Regions from separate parts of the Homo sapiens genome. Here all the other regions are linked to region 1. The links come from fine-mapping of genetic effects on gene expression. A gene starts in region 1. Each other region holds a variant in brackets. All regions are shown on one strand. Distances are from middle to middle. Region 1 holds the start of GOLGA7 (golgin A7). Region 2 has its middle 16 kb from the start of GINS4. Region 3 has its middle 26 kb from the start of SNORD65B.

What was found. PIP is the estimated chance that this variant, and not a neighbour inherited with it, causes the effect. A credible set is the group of variants that fine-mapping cannot tell apart.
Region 2: its variant is the best candidate, but not a certain one, in a credible set for the expression of GOLGA7 in whole blood (INTERVAL, PIP 0.70).
Region 3: its variant is the best candidate, but not a certain one, in a credible set for the expression of GOLGA7 in lung (TOPMed, PIP 0.78).

Annotation. Positions count from the first base shown.
Region 1 is chr8:41,488,098-41,492,339 of GRCh38, forward strand. It overlaps GOLGA7 (golgin A7), which reads left to right and starts at 2,485. Exons shown (of 5, transcript NM_001002296.2): 1 at 2,485-2,868. The coding sequence starts at 2,758. RefSeq lists a silencer at 2,116-2,375 and enhancers at 2,426-2,555, 2,846-2,955, 3,006-3,115.
Region 2 is chr8:41,511,348-41,515,589 of GRCh38, forward strand. It overlaps the pseudogene KRT18P37. Among named protein-coding and RNA genes, the nearest start is that of GINS4, 16 kb to the right of the region's middle. The variant GTACATGAGATGTTTTGA/G (reference allele first, on the strand shown) is at 1,717.
Region 3 is chr8:41,450,823-41,455,064 of GRCh38, forward strand. No RefSeq gene overlaps it. Among named protein-coding and RNA genes, the nearest start is that of SNORD65B, 26 kb to the left of the region's middle. The variant T/A (reference allele first, on the strand shown) is at 2,132.

The DNA of each region.
Region 1 (4,242 bases):
TTTTTTTTTTTTTTTTGAGACAGAGTCTCGCTCTTTAGCCCAGGCCGGAGTGCAGTGGCACTATCTCCGCTCACTGCAAGCTCCGCCTCCCGAGTTCACCCCATTCTCCTGCCTCAGCCTCTCGAGTAGCTGGGACTTATAGGCGCCCGCCACGGCGCCCGGCTCATTTTTTGTATTTTTAGTAGACACGGGGTTTCACCGTGTTAGCCAGAATGATCTCGATCTCCTGACCTCGTGATCCGCCCGCCTCGGCCTCTCAAAGTGCTGGGATTACAGGCGTGAGCCACCGCGCCCGGCCCCCACTGATTTTCAACAGAGATACAAAGGCAATTCAGTGAAGAAATGAGAGTCTTTTCAACAAATGGTACGTAAACAACTGAATAACAACTGCATAATCATACGGGGGGAGGGAAGAGTTTCACTCTATACCTATGGGAGGCAGAAATGCCCTCCCCAAGAGGTCCACACCCTAATCCCCTCAAACCCCTAACGTGTTAAGAGAGTAAAAAGACAAATCACAGACTGTGAAAAATGCATGCAAATCACATATCTGATAAAGGATTTTTCTCCAGAATGTATAAAGAACTCAAAACTCAAAAACAGCCCGGCCAAGTTCTCACGCAAGTATAAAGGCCTCAGGAAAACATCTTTAAACATACAAAAATCCAAGAATTAAAGTGCCTTAAAAATTTAAAACTGACCTTAAGCCCAGCCAATAAAGATGTAAATCAAAACAAAATAAAACAAAAAACCCCTCAACAACAGGAAAATAAAATACAAACAAAAAAATGGGCAAAAGTTTTAAATAGACACTTCACCAGAGAAGATACATGGATGGCAAATAAGTACAGGAAAATATGTTCAAAATAATTAGTCATGGAAAAATGAAAATTATAGCTGCAGAAGATATTACTACCCAAGTCTTGGCAAAGATGTGGAGCAACTGGAACTCTGGTGGGAATGCAAAATGGTGTCACCACTTTGGAAAACAGTTTGTCAGTCTGCCAAAAAGTTAAACGTGTTTTTACCGTACAATCTAGCCATTCTACTCCTAGGTATGTACCCAAGAGAAATGAAAGCATTAAGGTCTACACACCTATGCAAAGACTTGCAAATGAATGTCCATAGCAGCTTTATTTGTAACATCCCAAAACTGGAAGCAATCCAAATGTCCATCAACAGATGAATGGATAAACAAACTGTGGGATGGCCATACAATGGAATAGCTATCCAGCATCAAAAATAAATGAATTATTGATAACACAACAACAGATGGACTTCAAAATAGTCTATGTGAAAGAAGCCAGGCAAAAAAAGGGGGTACACACTATATGATTCAATTTATATAAAATTCAAGGAAATGAAACTAATGTTGAGTGACAGAAGGTGGATCAGTGCCTGGGAAATGGGGTCTGGGAGAGGCAGGAGGGAGAGATTACACAGGAGCTGGAGGAACCTTTTCAGGGCAATGGAGCTTTACTATCTTGATTGTGACAGTGGTTTATGGGTGTATTCATATGTCCAAAGTTATCAAATCCACTGCTTTAAATGTGTGGTTTATTGTATGCCATTTATATCTCGAAAAAGCTGTTTTTAAAATACAGTAAGAGAATTTTTCATATTTAAAAGGCAGGATATTTAAACTATATTAAATATATAAAAGACAGTGGTACTAACAGGTTGTATTAGCAGGAGACAAGGGTAAGGTGGGGTTTCTTTGGCTGCCTTGCAAAGAAATGCTGAGTCAAGTAAGGGCCAGTGGGCAACGAGGGCGGAACCACTTGTCCCCTTGGTCACCTGAGGGATGTGGATGGGAGCTGGGTGGAAATGGGGGGTGAGAGGAACGCCGCCCCCAAAGAAGAGTCGGGGCAGGGGCGCCCAACGCTGGGGCCCAGGCAGGTTCTTCGTCCTCACTTCCTGACCCTTTCTCAAGAGTCTAGGGACCAAATGGATCCATCCTTGGAGCCTGCTTTCTACTTCTGAACACAATGAGCAGTTTGTGTTTGAGGGTTTGGGGAGGGGGTGTTGTTTTTTCTTTATGTTTTGTTTTTTGTTTTGTGTATGAGTTGGGTGGCATAACCCACACGTAAGCTGCGACGTCCAATCAAGAACGAAAATGACCCCTCACAATCAGTGATCGGGAACCACCTGCCACAATCACTAGGGAAGTGACACAGCCGGGAAACTCCGCCCCTCACACCCCCGCGCGCTCGCGCCGGCCGCAGCCCCACAGCTCGCCCCGGCCGCAGCCCCACAGCTCGCCCCGCCTCTCTCCTTCCGGAAACAATCCCCGCGCGGGCGGAAGGCGGGGTCGGCCCTGGCCCCGCCCACATCATTTCCCTTCCTCGGCCCAGCCCCACAGCGCGCAGCTTCGGCAGGGTGGCTTTACGGCCGGAGGAGAGGGTGGGTCCCAGACCTGAGGTAGGAGGCCGAGCTGAGGGGCGGGGAAGAGGCTTTTTGCGGCAGGACGTAAGTGACGGCGAAGGCGGTGCGACAGCAGCTGGAGGGCAGAGGAGGCGGGTTTGTGTTTCCCGGGCCGAACCGGGTTGTGGGGGGCGCGGGGCCTGGGCCAGGCGGCAGCTAAGGCCCGCGGTGACAGCATGGGTGAAGGGGAGCGGGGCAGAGGAGGCCTTGGGCTGTTTTCGGCGGCGGGTGGGGGCGAGGGGCTGGCGGGTCAGAGTCCCGGGTCCAGGCCGGGGCTCTGACTCGCGGTTGGTGTTCCCCCGACCCCGCAGCGCGGGGTGTCCTGTCCTCGCCATGAGGCCGCAGCAGGCGCCGGTGTCCGGAAAGGTGTTCATTCAGCGAGACTACAGCAGTGGCACACGCTGCCAGTTCCAGACCAAGTTCCCTGCGGAGCTGGAGAACCGGGTACGCAACCTGGCTCCCCACGCCTGCTCTGGCGAGGGAGAGAGACTCACCGGGGACGGGAAGGGTGTGGGCGACAACCGGGCCTTTGAGGGTCCCGCAGTTCTGGGGAGGTCCAGGCACAGAAGGGGCCTTGGCCAAACGTGTAAGAAGAGAGCCACTAAGCAAGACAGGTGTTTGGAGCAGGAAGAATAATATAGGCCGATCGCCGGGGTTGACGACCTTATGGAACTTTGTTGCCCGGTGCCGGGAATCTGGATCCAGCAGTGTTCCCCTGCTGCACTCCCCCAAATCCCCACCCCGGGTTATTGTCGGCAGCGATGAGGAGCCAATTCCTGAGGCTCCAGGTCGTCTCAGTCACCAGGTTGTAAACTATATCCTCCTACCTCTCCGCGCAAGATAAATCATCATCATTCTCGTGACTGGTGTTTGCTGCCTCTGTGCTGGCCGCACTGTTTGGCTGAAAGGGTTTATTAGGTGCATGGCCAGGCGGTGCGTTCAGGCTTTCTTGGAACCTTAAAGACGTCGGGCGTTAGATAGGCCTGGACAGGAAAATGTCTCAGAACAAGGCCTTAAACTTGTCACATTCACTGGGAGCCACCTGTTTTGTCTTGCATATCAAAATGGTCATCAGGATATAGGTCCTTTGGGCAACATTGCAGGCAAAAATGGAAGAATGGGATTTGCTTCCCCTTCAGACCTAGCAAAACTTTAAAAAAAAAAAAAAAATCATTGTATCTTGTTGTAGAGGTAATGGAGTGTGTGCGTGCCTGCCTGTGTTTTTGTGTGCCCACATATGTACATTCAACCAAAGATTCTTTTGGTCTTGACCCATGTTATGTAGATTGTGTTTCCCGTTCAGGGATCAATTTCTGGTTAGCTGGAAGCAGGTTTTGTGGCTCTCTCCTCTGTGACAGGGAGGACGAGGGCCTGAGAGGTGATTAGGCATTCCTTGGGTGTGGGACTGAGAGATGCTGGTCATGGGATAAGTGGGTGTGGATGAGTCTGTGTAGAGAAATGTGTAGCAGTTATTTACAGTCAGTTTGCAGTGAGGTGGGTTGCACTGCCCGATTTCCATGGTTGGGAAATCAACAATGATCCATTATAGTTTCCTTCAGTTTGACATAACCATGGGCAGCTTCATGGCCCAAATATGTTTCTTGAATTGCAAATGGATCAAATATGCCTTTAAAAGATGGTGAGGTGACTTGTTTCTGAAATGCCATTTAAATGCTGCAGTATGTTGTCAACTATGTTATGAGTTAACTGAGCGTGACAATAGGTGGAACTATCTACAGTGGTTTGAAGAGGTAGAAATTCAGCAAGTGGCCAGTTGGGTAGAGCTACTGAATGTTGTTTTAAAATAATTTAACATCA
Region 2 (4,242 bases), 23 kb after region 1:
TGCAGGCACTGGGGGGCTTGGGATCCCAGATCTCCATGTCCTGTTCTACCAGTTTCTGGGGCGGCTTGGGGTCTGGGGGCCTGGCCACAGAGATGGCTGGGGGTCTGGCAGAAATGGGGGGCATCCAGAATGAGAAGGAGACCATGCAAAGCCTGAACGACCACCTGGACTACCTGGACAGAGTGAGGAACCTGGAGACCGAGAACTGGAGGCTGGAGAGCAAAATCCAGGAGTATCTGGAGAAGAGACCCCATGTCAGAGACTGGGGCCATTACTTCAAGACCATCAAGGAACTGAGGGCTCAGATCTTCGCAAATACTGTGGACAATGTCCACATCATTCTGCAGATCGACAATGCCCGTCTTGCTGCTGATGACTTCAGAGTCAAGTATGAGACAAGAGCTGGCCATGCGCCAGTCTGTGGAGAGCAACATCCATGGGCTCTGCAAGGTCATTGATGACACCAATGTCACTCTGCTGCAGCTGGAGACAGAGATGGGCGCTCTCAAGGAGGAGCTGCTCCTCATGAAGAAGAACCATGAAGAGGAAGTAAAAGGCTTGCAAGTCCAGATTGCCAACTCTGGGTTGGCCGTGGAGGTAGATGCCCCCAAATCTCAAGTCCTCGCCAAGGTCATGGCAGACATCAGGGCCCAATAGGATGAGCTGTCTCAGAAGAACTCAGAGAAGCTAGGCAAGTACTGGTCTCAGCAGACTGAGGAGAGCACCACAGTGGTCACCACACACTCTGCCAAGGTCAGAGCTGCTGAGATGACACGGAGCTGAGACGTACAGTCCAGTGCTTGGAGATTGACCTGGACTCAATGAGAAATCTGAAGACCAGCTTGTAGAACAGCCTGAGGGAGGTGGAGGCCCGCTACGCCCTGCAGATGGAGCAGCTCAACAGAATCCTGCTGTACTTGGAGTCAAAGCTGGCACAGAACTGGGCAGAGGGCCAGCGCAAGGTCCAGGAGTACAAGGACTTGCTGAACATCAGGGTCAAGCTGGAGGCTGAGATCGCCACCTACCGCCGCCTGCTGGAAGACAGCGAGGGCCTCAATCTTGGTGATGCCCTGGACAGCAGCAACTCCATGCAAACCATCCAAAAGACCACCACCCGCCAGATAGTGGATAGCAAAGTGGTGTCTGAGATCAGTGACACCAAAGTTCTGAGACATTAAGCCAGCAGAAGCAGGGTACCCTGTGGGGAGTAAGAGGCCAATAAAAAGTTCAGAGGTCAAAAAAACATCAAGGAATAGTCCATGGTAATTAAAAAATGTATATTTTTTTTGAGATGGAGTTTTGCTTTTTGCCCAGGCTGGAGTGCAATGGCACCATCTCGGCTCACTGCAAACTCCGCCTCCCGGATTCAAGTGATTCTCCTTCCTCAGCCTCCCGAGTAGCTGAGATTACAGGCGCCCGCCACCATGCCCAGCTAATTTTTTTATTTTTAGTAGAGACAGGGTTTCACCATGTGGGCCAGGCTGGTCTCAAACTCCTGACCTCAGGTGATCTGCCTGCCTCAGCCTCCCAAAGTGCTGGGATTACAGGTGTGAGCCACCACACCCAGCCTAAAAAACATATTTAAAGAAATAAGACATTGGCATGTTTCATTAGGAAAAAGGCATCACAGTTATTGTTACTATCTTGGATCACCTGATGACTCAGTGTAGTTTTATTATTTTTTTTTCTGGGTACATAGGTGTCTATATTCACGGT[GTACATGAGATGTTTTGA/G]TACAGGCATGCAATGCGTAATAATTACAGTATGTCAAATGGGCTACTCATCCCCCTCAAGCACTGTGTTACAAACAATCCAAATACAGATTCCATTTTTTGTTTTTGTTTTTGAGATGGAGTTTCGCTCTTGTCACCCAGGCTGGAGTGCAGTGGTGCAATTTTTAGTAGAGACAGGGTTTCGCCATATTGGCCAGGCTGGTCTAGAACTCCTGAACTCAGGTGATCCAACAGCCTCAGCCTCACAAAGTGCTGGGATTACAGGCGTGAGCCACCGCACCCGACCCAGACTCCATTTCTTTTAAATAAGGTAGATTTGTAGAAAATTAACAACTTAGAAGTTACAGTCCATAGTCCAACTTTCTTTTGTAAGCTTATTTTCCTATATAAAATGTTCAATGTCTCTCCTTATCCAGTGAAACTCATAGTAAATAATACTTATATAGCCAGGAGACAAAAAAGAGGTCATAACACCTCAATTAAATTTCTTCTGTATTCCACTTAGCCCTGGCTCCTAGCATAAGTTAAAGCTACAGTTTCCCAGGAGTAACATGCTTTGTTTTTTGTTATTTGTTTTAATGTCAAAGGAAATCAGAGTACTGGTGCCATATCTGATTTATGTACTTACCTCCTCTCCCCTTCACCAGCTTCTTTCCCCCTCCAAACAAAGGAGATTGTACATTCCATGAGGGCAGAGGTGGTTTCCTACTTACCCTTGCATCCACCTCACACTCCATGCATCCTCATACACAGTGCTACAGATACTTAGCTCTCACATGTTTGTAAAGTGCATAAATGAATGAGAGGTAAGTTGACCCATCAGGTCATTAACATCAGAATAGAATTACGGTGCTACACCTGGATTGGTGCGGCGTTTGTCTGGCTTTTGATAGGCAGTGATTTGTGTGCTCCCTTGGTAAAGTCTTCTAAAACTGGGAGGAGATATCTGTGGCTTAAGCTCCAATAGAGTGGACTTTTGCCTGGAGATAAGTACCCTTGAGGATCCCAATGCCCTTTAATTCTAGATTAGGAATTCCCAGGGAAAGGAAAGGAATTGCATCGAAACCTCTGAGTTGGGTAAAGTAAATAATAAATAAGCCTCCTGCTCATACTTTGTCCTGTATTATTCTCTATGTAACATTAAATCCAGCTATGATTGAAACTGCAAAACTTAGAAGTCTATTTCTCCTTAATTCTTTTAACTTAGTCTTCTGATAAAAGCTTATTTTCAGATAATTTCCACTTTTCAAAATTCTCTAAGGACCTAATAAAGCACAAACAATACTTTGTACTCATTTGAGTTCTTGCTACTGAATTTCTCTATGTAAAATCAAAGTTACAAGAACAATATGAAAAAAGGTGCTTGTCACTCATTAGATAAAATGAATCAAGCACGCTTGTAGTCTAACATCACCAGAGACTACTCTGTAGTGCAAACACTAACTGAAACAGGCCAGAGTCATCCCTGTCCTCATGTGTGCTTGCTGGAAGGATAAACATCGATGACTGTAACCATTACACAGTGACCAGCTTTAATGTGCAAGGGTGTCAGTGTGAATGATTTTATTCTACCCCACCCCCAAGAGCTGGAATAAATGGCTTTATGATGGTACTCTCCAGTACTGTACTCAAAACTTGGAAATGTGTAGAGAACGGCAAACATCTGATTAACATCCCATTTGCTGTGGATTGTTGGGAATGTCAAAATGGGGATTGTGGACCACCTACGTGCTAGGATTGTTAGGGGTACAGCAATACATGTATTTTGCTCCAAAATGAGTAGGCACAGAATTACAGAACCAAAATAAAGATCTTGGCTCTTCTGAATTATATCCTAAGTTCTTCCCATATATGTACCTCAAATGCTGCAGATACGAAGTTCTGTGAAATTCTGCCTACAACCAGGAAGCCCTATGGGAACTTAACGCCTACTCTTTACATTTTTAAGCCTCCATTTTGCAAAAAAAAAAAAAAAAAAAAAAAAAGTTTTTATGAGTTAGGCACTACCAAAGATCTTTGGTTAAGGGTTATTGTCAAGTGAAAACAAGTTTATGCTAGCAGGATGTTGTGGGTTTTTAAAAAAATAGTATCTGAGCAATAAAAGGATTTATTGACTTAGTAACTTATCTAACTTTGTGCTGTCACATTTTACTTTGCTAGTGAAATCTTTAATCTTCAGATTTATAAACTATCTTTGAAGAAATATTTCGTTTCACCTACAAAGAGTTCTTTAAAAAAAAAAAGCAGGAGACCTAAAAATCCACCTATTAGCTGCCATATCTGTTGTTCTTGATCTTTCTGTTTCTGTTCATGTATATATCCTCTTACCTCATGTTTTAACAGACCTGTTTATTGCCAGGAAATGATAATAACTTGTATTCAAAATGTTTTGTTAATTACTCTTCACGGAGCAGCCGAGTGTCAAACAACATAGCTAGCTCAGATTCTGGGATGTGCAAGGGCTGAGAAACATAGATGTGATCTTTTCCTCCCAACAAAAGGATTCATG
Region 3 (4,242 bases), 37 kb before region 1:
AGTTATTATTGCTTCAAATACAGTTATGCATTGCTTAACAATAGGGATGCATTCTGAGATATGCACTGTTTGATGATTTCGTCATTGTGTGAATATCATCGAGTGTACTTGTACAAATCTAGATGGAATGTCCTACTACACATCTAGGCTACAGAGCATGGCATATTGCTCCTAGGCTACAAACCTGTACGGCATGTTACATTACTGAATTCTGTAGGCAACTGGAACACAATGGTATTTGTGAATCTAAACATATCTAAACATAGAGGTTGGGCGAGGTGGCTCACGCCTGTAATCCCAGCACTTTGGGAGGCCAATGCAGGCAGATCACTTGAGGTCAGGAGTTTGAGATCAGCCTGGCCAACATGGTGAAAACTCGTCTTTACTAAAAATACAAAAATTAGCTGGGTGTGGTGGCAGGCACCTGTAATTCCAGCTACACGGGAGGCTGATGCAGGAGAATCACATGAACCCAGGAGGTTGCAGTGGAGCCAAGATCATGCCACTAGGCCAAGATCTTGCCTGGGCGACAGAGCAAGACTCCATCTCAAAAAAATAAATAAATAAACAAACATATCCAAACATAGAAAAGGTAATACATTGCACTACAACACTATGACAGCTACCACATCACAAGCAATAGGAGTTTTTTGGCTCCATTAAAATCTTACAGGACCACCATCTTACATGAGGTCTCTCATTGACCAAAATATCAATGTATTGATTCCAGTTTCCGACCTGTATCATTGTCTTGCTCTCTAAAAAACATCTTTTAACATTTTTTTTTTTTTTGAGAGGCTTGCTTTGTCACCCAGGCTGGAGTGCAGTGGCGCGATATCGGCTCACTGCAACCTCCATCTCCCAGGTTCAAACGATTCTCCTGCCTCAGCCTCCCAAGTAGCTGGGATTACAGGCGCCCACCACCACATCCGGCTAATTTTTGCATTTTTAGTAGAAATGGGGTTTCACCATGTTGGCCAGGCTGGTCTCAAACCCCTGACATCTTCTTCTCTTCTACTTTTGGTATCCCATTATACATATGTTATGCTTCTTGTAGTTGTCCCACAGTTCTTGAATACTTTGTTCTATTTCCTTCTCTTTGCTTTTCAATTGAAGAGGTTTATATAAAGATATCCTCAAGCTCAGAGATTCTTTCCTTAGCCGTGTCCAGTCTACTAATGTGCCCACCAAAGGCATTCTTCATTTCTCTTAGAGTGTTTTTTTGTTTTGATTTTAGAGACAGTGTCTTGCTCTGTTGCTAAGGCTGGAGTGGAGTGTCACAATCATAGCTCATTACAGCCTCGACCTCCTGGGTTCAAGCAGTCCTCCCACCTCAGCCTCTCAAGTAGCTAGGACTACAGAAACACACCACCACATCTGGCTTTTTTTTTTTTTTTAACTTTTTGTAGAGACAGGGTCTCACTATATGCTCAGGCTCATCTTGAACACCTAGCCTCAAGCAGTCCTCCTGCCTCGGCCTCCCAAAATGCTGGGATTATAGTGCTTCTGATTTCTAGCATTTCTTATGGTTCTTTCTTAGAATTTCCATTTCTCTGCTTTCATTTCCCATCTTTTGTTGAATGCTATCTACTTTATCCATTAGAGCCTTTATGCATATGAATCATAGCTGTTTTAAATTCCCAGTCTGATAATTCCAACATCCCTGCCATGTCTGAATCCGGTTCTGATGCTTGCTCCATCTCTTCAAATGTGTTTTCTGCCTTTTAATATGCCTTATAATGTTTTGTTTAGTAACATGGGAGTGAGGCGTCCGTGTGTCTTAGGTAACCCCCAGCAGGTTTCCATGAATATCAGACCCTTCACATCCTCTCTACTCTCTATTCCTGCCTACCTGGCCCAGGTCTTCCCGCAGTGATTGGCTCTGAGCTGGCTCTTACCCAGCATAGCAGATGTAATGCTCCCTCTAGCCCATATCCCTGGAGTAGGGTAAGATGGATCTTCTTGCTCAGATGTTTGGGTTAGCAAAGGCACCCCTAAAGGAGATGGATGGCCCCGCCATGGAATGTGTCCAGAGCCCTGGATGTTGTCCAGGTGCCTGGGGAGCTAAGCCATTAGTTCCACTGTCTGACTTCAGTCTCTCCCTGGTGCCGGGAGAGATTGATTGAGCCCA[T/A]GCCCTCGGGATGGGGGTGGCAGAGTGGGAGTGGAGAGGGAGGAGGAGCTGCAGTAAGTCAGACAGATGGGGTGTCACAGGATTGGCAACTTGCCTTTCCCAAGAGGGAATGTGGTGGGGTCGGGGAGGGAGCCCAAGGAGAAGGAAGCTTCAGCCCTGTTGACCCTGTCTCCAGCAATTACCGGAGGGGCCGTGATCCCTCTGATACCTGCACAGGGAACAGATGCAGTTGTGGCCAGCATGCTAGGTCACTTTCTTCTGCCAGTGCACTATGGGCCCTAAATGGATCCCAGATGCTCTGCTGCAAAAGGGGGCTTTCTTCCAGCATCCCAGCCTATCTTGAGACAAAGAGAATGAAGAATGGGGATGGGGATATGCTGGGGGGATTCCCATTTCTCTGATGCAATCTAGAAAAACAAGCCAAAGTTATCCAAACATTACCCAATGGCAACAACACACATTGGGGACTACTAGGGGGGCGGGGGGTGGGGGCCAGGGCTAAAAAGTTTCCTATTGGGTACCGTGCTTACTACCTGAGTGATGAGATCAGTGGTACCGCAAACCTCAGCATCATGCATATATCCATGTAACAAATCTGCATGTGTATCCCCGAGTATAAAATAAAAGCTGATTTTTTTTAAGTTATCAAAGAAAGTCCAGGAGGCACATGTAGTGCAAAATAATGTTAGTGCACGGGGTCAAAGTACTGGCACTCAGTAAATCAGTGGCTACCTAACTTAGCATTTCCTACAAAGAGCTAGATTAGCAAGTCTCAACCAAGAAAGGGACTTTTCTTTTAATTCTGGAAAGTAGGAGGTAGCTTGAAAACACTATCCTCCCTCCCTCCCATGCCCAATGGCAGAGGATAACCCTGTTCAGTGTTACAGAAGGGGAAACCCTTTACAAATGATTTAGCAACTCTAACCTTAAGGAGCTCAGCCTCATTAGAGAGATCACTTTCCCACCCTAAATCATAACCATGGAAGGTAGAAAAACCCCAGAGATTCAGTCTCCTTGTTTTAGATAAGAAACCTGAAGCCCAGAGAAAGAACGAGAGTTGCTGGAAAGTCCAGCTTTGCTTATGGGAAGGATTACAGGTTTAATATAAAACAGATGAAAACCTAAATCTGAATCTGAACTGGTCCCCTCAACAGAGTGTGTTTGCATGTAAGTGTGCAAGTGCATGCCCATCTGTGTGTCTTGTGTAGCACTGTAGTTCTGAGTCAGTGTACTTTGACACAGTGGTGTGTGGCTCACCTGCAAACCATAGCAAGCAATTAGTGATCAATATGTAAAATGCATTTCTTCGACATACCATTACAAAATATGTGTTGGCTAGAACATGGAGCTGAGAGGGTCCTGTAACATGGCATGGATATAACCTGCAGTTACATGCATGAGGGTCTGAAGTGAATGCACCACAAAAGAGCTTTATCTCATGAGTAATTCAACCAGCACGATGGCGCAGGAAGCAGTTCTGTTCCAACAGCATCATGATACCCAAAGATGGCCAAAAGAATAAGGCAATAAGAGTGAATTTGAAAGTGGGTCACAGGCATGAAAAACCTAAGCCCACTTCCTAATTGATAGAGAAAGTTCAAGATATGGCCGGGTGCGGTGGCTCATGCCTATAATCCCAGTACTTTGGGAGGCCGAGGTAAGCAGATCACTTGAAGGTCAGGAGTTCAAGACCAGCCTGACCAACATGGTGAAACCCCGTATCTAACAGAAATACAAAAAAAAAATTTAGCTGGGTGTGGTCTTGGTGTGGTCTTGGGCGCCTGTAATCCCAGCTACTCAGGAGACTGAGGTGGGAGAATCGCTTGAACCTGGGAGGCAGAGGTTGCAGCGAGCCAAGATTGCACCATTGCACTCCAGCCTGGGCAACAAAGTGAGACTTTGTCTCAAAAAAAAAAAAAAAAAAAGACAGATGGAACCACAAGGCTACATCCCAAAGTGATGAGCTATGGAGCTATGGCCAGGGCAGAGGCTGGAATGGAGGAGACCCCTAGGACAGCCCTTAGCTATGCTGTGGGGCCTCTTTGGACCTCTCATTTTGGCCGTCCTCATCGCCAGTTCTCTAGAGCACAGCAAGCTGCCGTCTGTCCCTG